2 linked regions of the Homo sapiens genome follow. Each later gene encodes a partner of the first gene's protein in a complex. Each region holds a gene or a part of one and is shown on either strand. Other genes may lie near its edges. The genes, in order: ARPP19 and PPP2CA. A codon is read from its position in the direction of its gene.

Region 1 (7,533 bases):
CTTCCCTTTGTACCCACGGGGGGGAAAAAATTACAGGTCAGGCCATATTGCCCAAACTGGTCTTGAACTCCTGGCCTCAAAGCTATCCTCTCACCTCAGCCTCCCAATGTGCTGGGATTATAGGCATGCACCACCACATCCAGCTCTCATACATGTTTTATAATCAGCTTCATTCACTTTATATATTATCAGTATTTCATCCTGAACTGCTTCTTCATTTGTTGTTAGATCTTCTCATTTTCAGTCTCGGAGAATTTTGAGAAAAAAGCTGCTTCTGTCAAATACTGTTTTCTGTGGAGCCTCTTTTTATGTTGCAGATTCATCCATTTATGTTATCTCTTTACAGTGGCCACGTCATTCACTCACTTGACATGCACGACATTCAATTATGTGCACTTAGCCAGAAATAGAGAATTTAAATAGTGGTGAGTCTACCAGTCATTCCATTCAAGAAGGGTATGCTCCAGAGAGGTAAGTGTGAGGTATGTGATGCAAACCTGCCATTCCCACGTTAGTCTCTCGTTGGGTATCTTGCAGAGCATAAGTACATCAACATGCTGTTTATCATTGCAGTGTTTAAAATCTCAGCCCGTACAATACAAGCCTATTACCTTAGCTAGCACTCAACTTAAGAATCACCCTAGCCATCTAGCCATCTGTTCAAACGCTGGACATAAAAGTGACTACCTGCTCTACTGAGAATTGATGGGGCAGTCTCCAATATGATTATGCCTTCTCTAGAATTTTGTCAAGGGTGATTTTAGCTATATGTGATTTTTTTCCCTTACTAACATTAGAACCTAACCCCATGTAAGATATGACTATACCATATTCATCACCAAAGCCAGAGAAATAAACATAAATGTAAGATTACCAAGTTTAATGTAGGAAGGCGGGCTGAGTCACTGCACAGCTTCGATGTGGCTCAGCCCTCACTGCAGATATCTACTGCAGCCCAAGGGTGTTCTCAGTGCTGCAGTTTAGAAGTGGATGTGGGAGGAGAGGCCTACTCTTGGGTTTCCCTGCACAGCTGGCTTCAAATAATTTTGGCTGAAAAGGATCCCAAGCTAATTGTCACCCTTTAGTCCCTGCACCTTCAAATTAAGGGTGTTACTGGAGTCCTACATTTCCAATAAAAATTCAGCTTTCTTGAGCCTAGGAAGTGAGAGCTCTCCACTTCTTCCTTTGATTTGAAATAGTTCTCCAAGTCTAATAGTTCCCCGAATTCCTTAAAAATTTTTAAAGGAAAATTGTATGTAGGTAGCAACTTACTCTGGTTTCCAGTGTTTCTGCAGGTTTCCTCCATTTGATATATAAAGGAAAATACCTTGTACACAATCCGGGCATTCCCTTATTTTCTTTTTCTTTTTTTTTTGCCATGTTGGCCAGGCTGGTCTCGAACTCCTGACCCCAGGTCATCTGCCCGCCTCGGCCTCCCAAAGTGCTGGATCACAGGCATGAGCCACTGGGCCCAGCCGCATTCCCTTGTTTTCTTAATAAGGAATACATTGATATATCATATTAAGCATGCTTAATTAAATTAAAAAATGTTTGGGTAAAACAGCATCTATGAGCTGCAAATGTCATTTATATTTAGAATGAATTTATAACATGTCTTAGAAAAAAACAAGCCGATTCTTGAACTTTCTTGCCAAATACATAGCACAACTGAAAGCCCCTGCTAGCTGCAACTTCCTAACTGGATTCAGAATTTCAGTTGGATTTAACAGGGGGGAAAAGATGACCTAATCTAGATTTTTAAATGTGGTAAACACCATTAAGACTTCCACAAAAGTTTTCATGAATCCTACAGAAACATTCTACAGAGCTAGGCAGTTCTAGGACCTTAATGATAAGTTAGTTCAAGTGCTTGGACATGCATTAATATTCTGACAGTTACTGAGTTCTTATTAGGTTCTGTCAACGGCATCTATGCCAGATTAAAAGGCATGAGAGAAAGAATCCATTCTGCTCCTGGTGATGCCACCACCAACAGCAGACAGCAGTCGCCCCTGTGAGCTCCTACAGAGGGACATATGGCAGATAAACAGGGGCTCTAGTAGCAGCTACACGACAAGGGAGGCAGACGATGGTGGACTCTGAACAGTACTCATCCTTGCAGGGTCAAAGGCTTTCTGTAATCCTTACCTCTGGAAACACCATCTTCCTCCCTTTTGTTCCTCTATTCCTTCTAATAATTTGTAACCTTATTCCCTAAAAATCATATTCCTTCCTTTTTAAAAACATGCAAAGTGGTTTCTGCTCCTGTCTCCCAACAGGACACTGATAAAAGCAGGTAAAATAAGCGATTTATCCACAGTCATGTTCAAAAATGCAAAATAGAACACAATTTGATGTGACTCCACGTTTCTGGACCTCAAGGGAATTCCTAAACATTTACTTAAGCTAGAATGAAAACAAAGGGGAGATAAGCCAATAGTTATTTATTTGTTTATTTTTTCCAAAAAGAATCACAGAAAGATTAAATCATAAACTAATCAAGCTTTGGGTTAAATAGGTTAGGATGTAAGGGATAAAGGACAGGAATGACTATTACTAAACAAAGAAAATTGGTATATACATACACATATACTGATAACAAGTCAATATTGTAATTTTAATATCTTTATCATGTGGAGTTAAAAAAGAAAAGAATACTATAACAGTACCATATTTTTAGTTTAAGTGTTCTATGGTCCTGTATAATTTAGAAAAGGGTTTATAATCTTAATTTTTACATCTTGTTTAGTTAAGAATGCATGAAAAATTTCAAGGGGAACCAATTAAATAGCAGAAATAAAAAGGAGTGTTGGGGAGAGCAAGAAAGGAAGAAAAATAAAAAAAATTTTAAATACCAAAAAGAAACCAAACATAAGGAGAAACAAATCCCAATATGTTAATAACCACAATAACCATACTGAAGCAACAGACTGTCCATTTAAATCCAGTGGCTGGATTAAGGAAAAAAAAAAAACCTAGCCACTTGTGGAGTACACATTTAAAAAAATCTAAAAACAAGGACATAGGTTGAAAGTAAAAAGACTGAGGGTGGGTGGTGGTGGTAACATACCAGGCAAAAAATCCTTACCAAAACAGAGCTAGTGCAGTGCACCTACTTTTTTTTTTTTTTTTTTTTTTATTAAGATACATGGTCTTCCTATGTTGCCCAGGCTGGTCTAGAACTCCTGGCCTCAAGCAATCCTCCTGCCTTGGCCTCCCAAAGTGCTGGGACTGCAGGCGTGAGCCACTGTGCCACTAATAAAATGGCATGAAAATATACAAAGCAAAAACTGACAGAACTATAGGGAGCAACTGACAAGTCCACTACTATGGAATTCAACACAGCTTCCTCAATTATTGATAGCTATAAAAGATAAAGTAGTTAAGATACTTGATTTTAATTTTACATCTAACAATTAGGGAATGCATAGTCTTCCACAGCACAAATGGAAAAACTGACTAATACTAGGCCATAAAGCAAATCTTAACTATTTTCTTCCAGACCACCATCTATGACTGCAATTCATTAAAGTCAGTAACAACAAAAAAATTATAAATCTCTAATATTTAGAAATTAAAAACATACTTCTAAATAATTCCTGGTTAAAAAAGAAAGCACGAGTATTTAAAAAAAATAGGAGTTCTAGACCTACCCGGGCAACACAGTAAGACCTTGGCCTTTACAAAAAAAATTTAAAAATTAGATAGGTGTCGTGGTAGATGCTTATATGCCTATAGTCCTGGCTGCTTGGGAGGCTGAGGTGGGAGGGTCACTTAAGCCTACCCTGGGAGACAGAGTGAGACCCTGTTTCTTTAAAAACAAACAAACAAAACCCTACACATACCAAAACTTGTCAGGTATAGCAAGTATCTCTCAAGGGCTTATATCAGAGAAGAAAGCTAAATCTCAATGAGCGATGCATCCAATTTAAGAAGTTAGACAAAGAAAGGAGCCCAAAGAAAATGGAGAAATAAAAAGCAGAAATTAATGAAAAAGATACAATAGAAAGGGCCAACAAAGGGGGTGGATATGGCAAGCTTAAGAAGTTTTTTTTTTTTTTTTTTTTGAGACAGAGTCTCACTCTGTCGCCCAGGCTGGAGTGTGGTGGCACGATCTCGGCTCACTGCAACCTCCACCCCTCCCCACGCTGGGTTCAAGTGATTCTCCTGCCTCAGCCTCCCGAGTAGCTGGGATTACAGGTGCCCATCACCGCACCTGGCTGATTTTTGTATTTTTAGTACAGACAGGGTTTCACCATCTTGCCCACGCTGGTCTTGAACTCCTGACCTCGTGATCCATCTGCCTCTGCCTCCCAAAGTGCTGGGATTACAGGTGTGAGCCACCGTGAAGAAGTATTTTTTATGATTCAAATCTGGTTTTGAAGTTTCATTCTCCAAGAAGCCTTTGTGTTACACAGCAATTTTACTACATTTTAAAAATAGATGCTGTAATGTAAATGGATTTACTTAGGTAAGTAGCTTCTAAATTGATAATAGGGTCCGCAGAAGGCAGAATTCTGAACTTTTGGCTATTGGCTACAAGCTGGGAAAGGAACCCCAGGATATGGTAACACAGATACATGTTTACACACAGATACATGTATACGATGTATGTATCCAAAAAACAAAAACAAAAATCTTAAGAACAGTATTTTTAATAATAGTTATTGTCTCGGCATGTGCATTTTTGTGAATTGTACCACTGAAATACATCAGAAATCCTTTCTGTGAATAGGTGGGGTATAAGTTATAAATATATACACGTAAAAAGGACACTCAAATAACTAAGGATTATTTTGTAGTCTATTATACACTGAGCAGAATTATGTCTCAATGACTGATACCACTTTTCAGCCTTCGGCAGAGGAGGGTTATACAGCAACGTCAGCAATAAAAATCTGACCACTCTAAGCAAATTCTCCTCTATCTGCTCAGCAACATGTTGACTGATGCACTGATTGACGAATAACTAGAAAGGATTAATGAAAGCCAACAAATCCTTTGGGATACTGCCAGGAAGGTACCAATACTGTATCAAGCTCTATGGAAAATTACTGTTGTCATTCTATTAAGTCTTTGTTTGCCTAGTGCCTAGCATTTAATGAATGTTCAATAAAAGTTCATTCATCTGAATGAAAAAATACAATGTACTTGTTTCCATAAAGCTATAAAGCTAAGAAACTTTCTTCACACTTGAGGATTTCACCATCAGCTCATCTTTAATATTTTATGTTATAGTAAACACAGCTTCTGGATTAGAAGTTAAGTATTCAAGTCTTGCACAAACAAAAGAAGCAACCCTAACAAACTGTTGTATCGCAAACTGCTAAGACGGCTAAGAGAAACATTTAAAAACTTTTCTGAGGTTTACCTCTAGGCTGTTAGGAATCGATGGTTGCAGAGACCAAGGGAGCATGTTGTGTTCACTCTGAATAGAAATAGAAAACATGGATGAGGCGGTTGCTCACACCTGCAGTCCCAGCTACTTGGAGGCTGAGGTGGGAGGCTAGGTGAACCCAGGAGTTCAAGGCGGCAATATGCTATCATTGTGCCATTGCACCCCAGCCTGGGCGACAGAGTAAGACCCTGTCTCAAACATAACAAAAACATTCTTCAGCCTTTAGGTAACCAAAAGTAGTTGTCAAAAGAGCTCCTGAAAATACCAATATGAACTCCTATTTTTAAAATACTGGAAGCATGGGAAAACAATTTATATCTCTTTATGGTTGATATATTAAAATAATGCAGATAAAGGTTCTTTTCCTCTTCTACCACTCATAAAGGCACCAACCTGTATCTCTTACCTGACAAATAATTTCATTGACAGCTTTCCTGTGGGTATCCTTTCCAAGACATATTAGTTTGGTGAGTCTTATAACCTCTAGAAAACTTGCTATTGAGATCTTAAAAAAAAAATTAAGGCCACAACACAAACGAAAAAATATATACACACATCACTGTAGTTTCGTTCAAGAGTTCTTAAGTGGGTCTAAGCTAAGGTTTTCATCTTACCATGGTCTATTCTTCTCTGTGGTACTAGCATTGTCATTTGTTTTGAAATAGTACTTTGGCAAAGGTTTTAACAGAAAAGTTCTGAGGAAAATCCATTCAACCATTTTGTAAATAATGTCAAGCACAATGTTGAGTGCTGTGAGAGAACAGATATATAAACCAGGGTCCCTGAGCATAAGCTGCTCACAGTGCAATTAAAATTACCATCTTTTTTTTTTTTTTTTTTGAGACAGGGTCTCCCTCAGTCACCCAGTGGCGCCATCAAAGCTCACTGTGGTGCCATCAAAGGTCCCTGTGGTTTTGACCTCCTGGAGGTCAAGTGATCCTCCCCTCAGCCTCTGGAGTAGGTGGGACTACAGGTGTAGATTTATTATTTTAGAGACGGGGTTTTGCTATGTTGCCCAGGCCGGTCTCAAACTCCTGGCCTCAAGCGATCTTCCCACCTTGGCTTCCCAAAGTGCTGGGATTACAGGCAAGAGCCACCCTGTAGGGCCAGAATTATCTGTTTTAAGTTTCCACTTGCCTCTTCTCCCCTCCAGGACTAGTACACATGCCTTAGCTTACTGCTGATAGATTCATGAGATCTGTACTCAAAACTTTTAAATGTTTTGTTTTCACTTCAGTGGTTATCTCAAAGGCAAATATAAGCATATTCTGGGGAATCTGAATCACCACGTTGCATCTAAGTAGTGCTATGTGGGTTCTGCATCTGAGCTTTCTTTGACAAAGACTCAGCAGGTTACTCCAACTGTCCAAGAAAATGAGAAAAGAATGGAGCTGAACTTAAAATGTGATTGTATCTATGACTCTGGAAACTTAGTGACCTCATAGTTTACTCTTAAAAGGGGAACTGAGCCACCACATGGCCTAGGGGAGTGTTTACTTGACAAACTCAAAAACTCCCTCAACTTTTAACAATTGCTGCCATATTCCAAATACATTGGAAATTTAGTTTCAGCAAAATACCAAGCACACAATCAAAAATTTAGACTGGCTTTGTTGTATTTAATCTGTTTTAGTTTAAATTTTATTTTATTTTTTTGAGATGCAGTCTCACTCTGTTGCCCAGGCTAGAGTGCAGTGGCACGATCTCGGCTAACTGCACCCTCCGCCTCCCAGGTTCAAGCAATTCTCCTGCCTCAGCCTCCTGAGTAGCTGGAACTACAGGTGCGTGCCACCACACCCGGATAATTTTTGTATTTTTTAGTAGAGAGGGGGTTTCCCCATATTGGCCAGGCTGGTATCGAACTCCTGACCTCATGATCCGCCAGCCTCGGCCTCCCAAAGCGCTGGGATTACAGGTGTGAGCCACCGTGCCCGGCCAAATTTTATTTTATTTATTTTCTGACACAGAATCTTGTTCTGTTGCCCAGGCAGGAGTACAGTGGTATGATCTCAGCTCACTGCAACCTCTGCCTCCTGGGTTCAAGCAATTCTTATGCCTCAGTCTCCCGAGTAGCTGGGATTATAGGTGTGGGCCACCATGCCTGGCTAGTTTTTGTACTTTTAGTAAAGACAGGG
Region 2 (7,000 bases), on another chromosome or scaffold:
ATTGACAAACTTCTATTTAAGAAATACCGACTACAACCAACAAATGTTTAATATGCAGCAAATGAAAAAATCATGTCTAGGATACTCAACCCAAGACATGAGCACATCATGTACAAATTCATTGTAAACTTACAAAATAAGTTTCAAAATTTCTGCAAGCCCTCACTATACAAACTCAGAATCCTCTTTATTTTTGAGACAGGGTCTGGCTCTGTCACCCAGACTGGAGTACAGTGGCACAATCTCAGCCCACTGCAACCTCCATCTCCTGGGCTCAGGCGATCCTCTCACCTCAGCCTCCCAAGTAGCTGGGACTATGGTATGCCACCAAGCCCGGCTGATTTTCATATTTTTTGTAGAGATGGGGTTTTGCCATGTTGGCCAGGCTGCTCTTCAACTCCTGACCTCAAGGGATCCACCCACCCTGGTCTCCCAAAGTGCTGGGATTACAGGCATGAGCCACTGTGCCAGGCCTGTTCTTAGGGAAAGCTTTTTAGGTTTATTAATGAAAATCCTAATGTTACTAATTGAGACATCAGTTAACACCCAACTTAGTGATTCCCATCCAACCATAATTATGTATTTTTCAAGAAAATACATAATTTACTAACACATTTTCCTTACCATAGCCATTTTCAAAAGAAGGTAGGGTACTAACACTTTCCAGTTTAGATGGCCAAAGCCCGGTCAGTCTCTATAATTAAACAATTATTTTAAACCCTAGTTATGCTAAAACCAAGCTATTCTTATCACAAGTCCCATTCTGCTAACCACAAAATTTAGAGAATTTGTACCTGGAAGATACCACCACGTGTCAATTACAATATACGTATTCCTTGGTCAATTCTGATATCACAGGACCGGAAAAAATAGCTGCTTGGTGTCTAGATTGTTTGGGTATTAAAACCACTGCACATGGATAAGCTATTTGTTCAGTCGGAGAGAAAGGGCATAGAGTGACAGAGCAACAAAAAGACACACAGAGAATGTATTTCTTGTGAAAGAAAAGAATGAAATGAAATGAAATGTAGAAACCCTAATGGCCTTTTGCTTTGGAAAATTAACTCCACAAGCCACTAAAAATACTATCAATTAGATCAGAAAAGACATTCGGTATGTATGTGTTCCTCAAGCATTTTAGAAAGGGGATATGCTATAACTTCCCTGTTGGTTCCAGATTCAACACAGCACAAAGCAAGAAAACTTTTATTTACTACACTCACAAGTATGATTAAGTGTTCCTGTTTACTCTGGTAGGTTAAAATATCAAATATTAGTTCCCACAGAAGAACTTTTTTTTAAACATCTAATCCTATTCGAAGGATAAAAGGGGAAAAACTCATTAAATGTTGAACACTGCCACTTTAAGTACCATTTTTGTCTTCGGGTGAATGTACATAAGACTAAATCATGATCCAACAATAGTTTTCTATTTGGTTTCACTAGTATCACTCAAAGAACTTGACACAGGCTAATGCTTTAACACTTTCTTATCTGAGACAAATTTAACTCTAAGAACATATGACTCAACAATGTACAAAGATTTAAGAATTTGCCAATCTGTCAATCATTTTAAAGAGTCCATATAATATACACATAGCAATATAATATTCATAACCAGAAACTGCACTAAGTAAACACATCATTTAGTTTAAGCTCTACCTGAAAACATGCTGTTTTATTAAAACAAAACCCAAAGACTTAAATCTCAAGTTATATGGTTTTACAATTAAGTCTTACTGAAGCAGCACAGATTTCCTTTCTTACAAACAAGTTAATATGCAGGAAGAACCCACAAAGTGCACACCAACAATGTGACAAATTGTAATATGTGAAATACAAATAAATCCTGAAGTTAATCTGAAGAATGTCAAGGAGTTACCAGAGAGGTTATGTAGTGCCCTTGATTTTTATTTTACCTACAAGTCTACAAATTCTAAAATTTACTCAATTGATTTAACTTTTTTAATAAACAGCACCAGTCTTGCCCATTGATACAATTAAAATTTGACCTTCTCAGTTCTTAGTTCACAAGTTTATTATGAAAAACACTGCAGTGCTCTTGTGCAGTCACATCGTCTTACAGGAAGGGGAAAAAACAGTTCTGTTCAAAACAACTCACCAGGTTCTGACAATAACAAAGAACAACATGGGGCTGAGATTTGAGTAGGGAATAAACTGAGTGCAGACAAATCATATAATTAAATTAAACGGTATCCCTGAAAATAAAAAGAACAATTTCAAAACTCACAAGTAGAAGGGAGGCCTTGGTAATTATTTTTAAAAATGTTCATTAAGCTCCAATGATTGTTTGCTGCTATCCTTATCTACAGTCATGCTGAGTAAAGCTATAGCTAAATGGAAGTTAAATTGTATTCACGAGGTGTTAATGTTTACATCTTATTATCTGCAGTCTCTCAGAGAAAGCAAAAGTAACTACAAATAGCGCTATGCCAGAAACTGGTTTCTTGACCAACAATGTCGCTTCAGCATGCAATGAACTGGTTCATTCTAAAGTGGTCACGGCTGTTGATGACAAGAGGCTTTGTATTTTTATATGGCACATCTTTTGGTCCATGTGAAAACAAGTTTTTTGAATGTTAACTATTTTCTGACACTTTGGAGTTACTGTTGCTCTTCCCATTTCCATTAGGTCGATATATGGTTCATGGCAATACTGTACAAGTTTAAAATTTCATTACAGGAAGTAGTCTGGGGTACGACGAGTAACATGTGGCTCGCCTCTACGAGGTGCTGGGTCAAACTGCAAGCTGAAAAACAAGACCGATTCATGGTTTATGTTCCACGACCTCCATGTAGTGACAATCAAGATCAAGAACATGAGTCTTCCAAACTTTACACTTCCTATTCAATTTTGGCTTGTCTTAATGTAACAGAACCTTAATGATAATGGTCTGTTAACTGTACTCCCCTTGAAAGAGTCAAGGCAACTTCAGCCACAGAGACTATGCTTTTATAAAAACATGGTTTTTACCTTGACTGAAATTTCAAACAAAACAAAACAAAACATGGTTGGCCGGGCGCAGTGGCTCACGCCTGTAATCCCAGCACTTTGGGAGGCTGAGGCGGGCGGATCACGAGGTCAGGAGATCAAGACCATCCTGGCTACCACGGTGAAACCCCATATCTACTAAAAAAATACAAAAAAATTAGCCGGGCGTGGTGGCAGACGCCTGTAATCCCAGCTACTCGGGAGGCTGAGGCAGGAGAATGGTGTGAACCCGGGAGGCAGAGCTTGCAGTCAGCCAAGATCGCACCACTGCACTCCAGCCTGGGTGACAGAGTGAGACTCCGTCTCAAAAAACAAACAAACAACAAAAAAACACAAAACATGGTTTTAAAAGTGAAAAACCTAGTAATTCATACGAAGATCTATATATAATAAGTTCCTGTTGGTGTGTTTCAATGTAGATCCATTAAAAAAAAAACAAAACTTAAAAATAAAAGTTGGAATCTGACATAGCATAATCCCTTAATAAACACTTTTTTGAGACGAAGTCTCGCTCTGTTGCCCAGGCTGGAACGCAGTGGCGCGATCTTGGCTCACTGCAACCTCTGCCTCCCGGATTCATGCCATTCTCCTGCCTCAGCCTCCTGAGTAGCTGGGATTACAGGCAGGCGCCACCATGCTGGGCTAATTTTTGTATTTTTAGTAGAGAAGGGGTTTCACCATGTTGGTCAGGCTTGTCTCGAACTCCTGATCTCAGGTGATCCACCCGAGCCTTCCAAAGTACTGGGATTACAGGCATGAGCCACCGCGCCTGGCCCCCTTAAACTCTTAAACCTCACATTTAAACTATGTATTCAGGCTGGGCACTGTATCTTATACTTGTAACCCCAACACTCTAGGAGGCCAAGGTGAAAGGATCACTTCAGCCTAGGAGTTCGAGACAAGACTGGGCAATATAGTGACACCCTCTCTCTCAAAATAAATAAACCAAAACCCTACATATTCAGTAATGCAAGAAAATGTTCAGGTAGAATTACTTACAAAGAGTATTTTAGAGTATCGTCAAGTTCCATGATTGCAGCTTGGTTACCACAACGATAACAATAGTTTGGAGCACTGAAAATCGTTACTACATTCCGGTCATGGCACCAGTTATATCCCTGCAAGGAAAAGGAGACAAAAATCTTACTTTACTCCCTCAATTCAACTAAATGTTACTTCACTCAAGAGAGAAAAAAATCTCTACTCATTCCCACCCCTGCCAAAGGGGCTTAAGAAATGTTAATGCTTTTTTTCTGGATGACTTAATAATCTCCTGTACTTTATACAACCTGTAAGGTACACATGTATTTATTTTCCCCCTAATTACAAAACTTGTTTTTTTTTTAGTACTTTAAAAAAAAAAAGGCTTTAACAAACAGCAGCAACCACCAAAGAATGAAATACTTCTCATGTATCTGCCTTGCTGTAAATGACAATGTCTCATTAGCCTCTTCTCTTGCAGTGGCCTTAAAACATGATTTAAGAATAAGTATTTAAGTGGCCATTCCCTAGAGAAGTAGATACTTAATCCTGGAGACCAGAACCTTACCAATTTTGTCAGTCACAGGTAAAGGCCTGTTAAGTTGGTCACTGCCCAGGAACAAATGCAATATGCCTCTAGGATCTCCAGCCTCATTTCCTCAAAGTCCATCCACCTGAATGCATGAGCTACTTTTGTTACTTTTTGTTTAGTATTGTTCACAATTTCTTTACCTTTAGCAAAGTCAGATTTTATTGATAACCACAGAGTTGTACTAGTATTAATCTAATTAGGACCTTATTTTAAAAATATTCTAATCAGTGTGCCATGTCAAGAACCTTTGCCTCTTTCCCTTCTTTCAAATCACCTGTAATCCTAGCATCCAAAGGACCACTTAAAACATTTTCGTGTATTTCTTTCCAGTCTCTCCTACATACATACATTAAATATACGAAATAACATTGGGATCATAAAATATCATACATGCACACCAACTCCCTATATCTTACTTTCCCACTCTTAAATCTCAAGTACTTCCTAGTCATTCAGATTTCTCTGAAAACATGTTAATGGATTCATTGTAATCAAAAGCTTGAGCTTTTAATTCTAGTAGTGTGCATCTACTGAAAAGGCTCAGGCTATAATGATAAACTCATCAGAAGGAATAGATGGAATTTCTCACAAATGTCATTAATTTAAAACTCCCTAATATCTTCTTTCCTTAAGTTTACTAAAAAAACAAGTCATATTTCAGAGAACACAGCATACCTCCATCACTAGCTGGTGAGCTCTAGACACCAACGTGAGGCCATTGGCATGATTAAATGTCTCAGAAATATCTTGCCCAAAGGTGTAACCAGCTCCTCGAGGAGATATACCCCAACCACCACGGTCATCTGGATCTGACCACAGCAAGTCACACATTGGACCCTAAAAAATAACTTCAAGTTATAAAATGCCTTTTACAAACATGGTTAACACATTATTTGAGTAATTCATCAGAAGCAGCACCCTAAGCCACCCTTTTTGAGTGATGTTTGTGGACAATGCTAATAGACTGTGCAGTTGAAGTCAAACATCTGCATCAAATAAGATGTATTTTCCAGCAGACTTTATGAGACACAGCTGACATCCATGGGACCCAGCAGCAACATGCCCTAATTAATCTGCCTATATTATGCAAATTTCAGAGTCTAAGACAGACAACCCAGGTCCTAATAAGCCCAGCTTCACAGCTGTTGTGATCTTGGCAGGTTTCTTAATGTCAGCTTCTTTTGAACAACAGGGCAGACAAGAGTGCTCACACCTCAAGTTGTTTTTGAGAATTATATGAGAGAATACATCTAATGAACTTACAATTAAACTTCTCCACTCCCTAATAAGTTTTCTGAAAGAATTTTATCAAATAAAAGTCATACCTCATGGGGAACTTCTTGTAGGCGATCAAGTGCTCTGATATGATCCAGTGTATCTATAGATGGCGAGAGACCACCATGTAGACAGAAGATCTGAAAAGAGTGGTTTAAAAGGTTAACCTCACCTAAAAAATTTGTAAACATTCTTGGCTGGGCACAGTGGCTCATGCCTGTAACCCCAGCACTTTGGGAAGCTGAGGCAGGAGGGCTGCTTGAGGCCAGGAGTTTGAGACCAACCTGAGCAACACAGCAAGACCCTGTGTCTCTACAAAAATTTTAAAAAATGAGCTGGGCACCCCCATCACTTGGCCCCTCTGGTGTTTCTGTGCTCTGCCTGAATGAGACTTGACTTTGCAGGGTTCATCTTTGCTCCAGCCCACTCTGAACTATTGAGTACACTCCTGTTCTTCCTAATAGACCATCGCTGTCACAACCAGACTCCACTTCAAACAGCTCCTTTGAGAAAACTTCTTGGATATCACTCCTGCCCTTTGCCAGAGACTAGTATCTTCATACTCATAAAATTTTATTGTAAGTTCTTTTGTGTGCACATCTACCTAGGCCAATAATTAGCTCCTTACATCTCCCAGACTTGTCCAAAAACAGTCTGAGAGGGTAAATGGGCTACATCACCCACCCCTGTGATCCCACCATACAGTTCAGTGCCTGATATAAAGAATAATGCACTTAAAAAAGTTGGACACATTTGTCAAATTAAATTTTTTTTAAGTTTGAATGAATGCTATCAATATCTATTAAAAAATATCCCCAAAGGGGTGTTAAGAGTGGAAAGAGTCATAAGCACCTGAACACTAAAGAAAGCAGATTCTCTGAAATAATCAGCAATGAGTTTTAGATCCACATACCTGCCCATCCACCAAGGCAGTGAGAGGAAGATAGTCAAAAAGATCTGTAAAATATTTCCAAACATTTGCATTTCCATATTTTCTTAAACATTCATCATAGAAACCATAAACTTGTGTGATCTGTCTGCTCTCATGATTCCCTCGAAGAATGGTGATGCGTTCACGGTAACGAACCTAAAACAATAAAATGCAAAACATAAACAACTAGCTCTTTCAAAAACCAATG

The links.
Region 2: the proteins of ARPP19 (region 1) and PPP2CA are in contact, whole or in part, in a cryo-EM structure (PDB 8TTB), measured with the Homo sapiens proteins. Residues at the interface, in NP_001293124.1 of Homo sapiens: Phe60, Asp61, Ser62, Gly63, Asp64, Tyr65, Asn66, Met67, Lys69, Ala70, Lys73, Ile92, Pro93, Thr94, Pro95, Leu98, Arg101; in NP_002706.1 of Homo sapiens: Arg89, His118 (codon at 6,909), Gln122 (codon at 6,897), Gln125 (codon at 6,888), Val126 (codon at 6,885), Tyr127 (codon at 6,882), Tyr130 (codon at 6,873), Asp204 (codon at 5,390), Asp205 (codon at 5,387), Pro213 (codon at 5,363), Arg214 (codon at 5,360), Gly215 (codon at 5,357), His241 (codon at 5,279), Gln242 (codon at 5,276), Leu243 (codon at 5,273), Met245 (codon at 5,267), Tyr265 (codon at 4,077), Arg268 (codon at 4,068), Cys269 (codon at 4,065).

The regions. Positions count from the first base shown.
Region 1 is NC_000015.10:52,558,819-52,566,351, forward strand, and holds part of ARPP19 (cAMP-regulated phosphoprotein 19), read right to left. Parts: intron 5,429-7,533; coding exon of another isoform or gene 5,372-5,428; intron 1-5,371. UniProt on the Homo sapiens protein: Protein phosphatase inhibitor that specifically inhibits protein phosphatase 2A (PP2A) during mitosis. Inhibition of PP2A is enhanced when ARPP19 is phosphorylated.
Region 2 is NC_000005.10:134,195,074-134,202,073, forward strand, and holds part of PPP2CA (serine/threonine-protein phosphatase 2A catalytic subunit alpha isoform), read right to left. Parts: intron 6,949-7,000; coding exon 6,775-6,948; intron 6,002-6,774; coding exon 5,912-6,001; intron 5,435-5,911; exon of another isoform or gene 5,424-5,434; coding exon 5,262-5,423; intron 4,132-5,261; coding exon 4,013-4,131; intron 2,772-4,012; coding exon 2,699-2,771; 3' UTR 1-2,698. UniProt on the Homo sapiens protein: Catalytic subunit of protein phosphatase 2A (PP2A), a serine/threonine phosphatase involved in the regulation of a wide variety of enzymes, signal transduction pathways, and cellular events.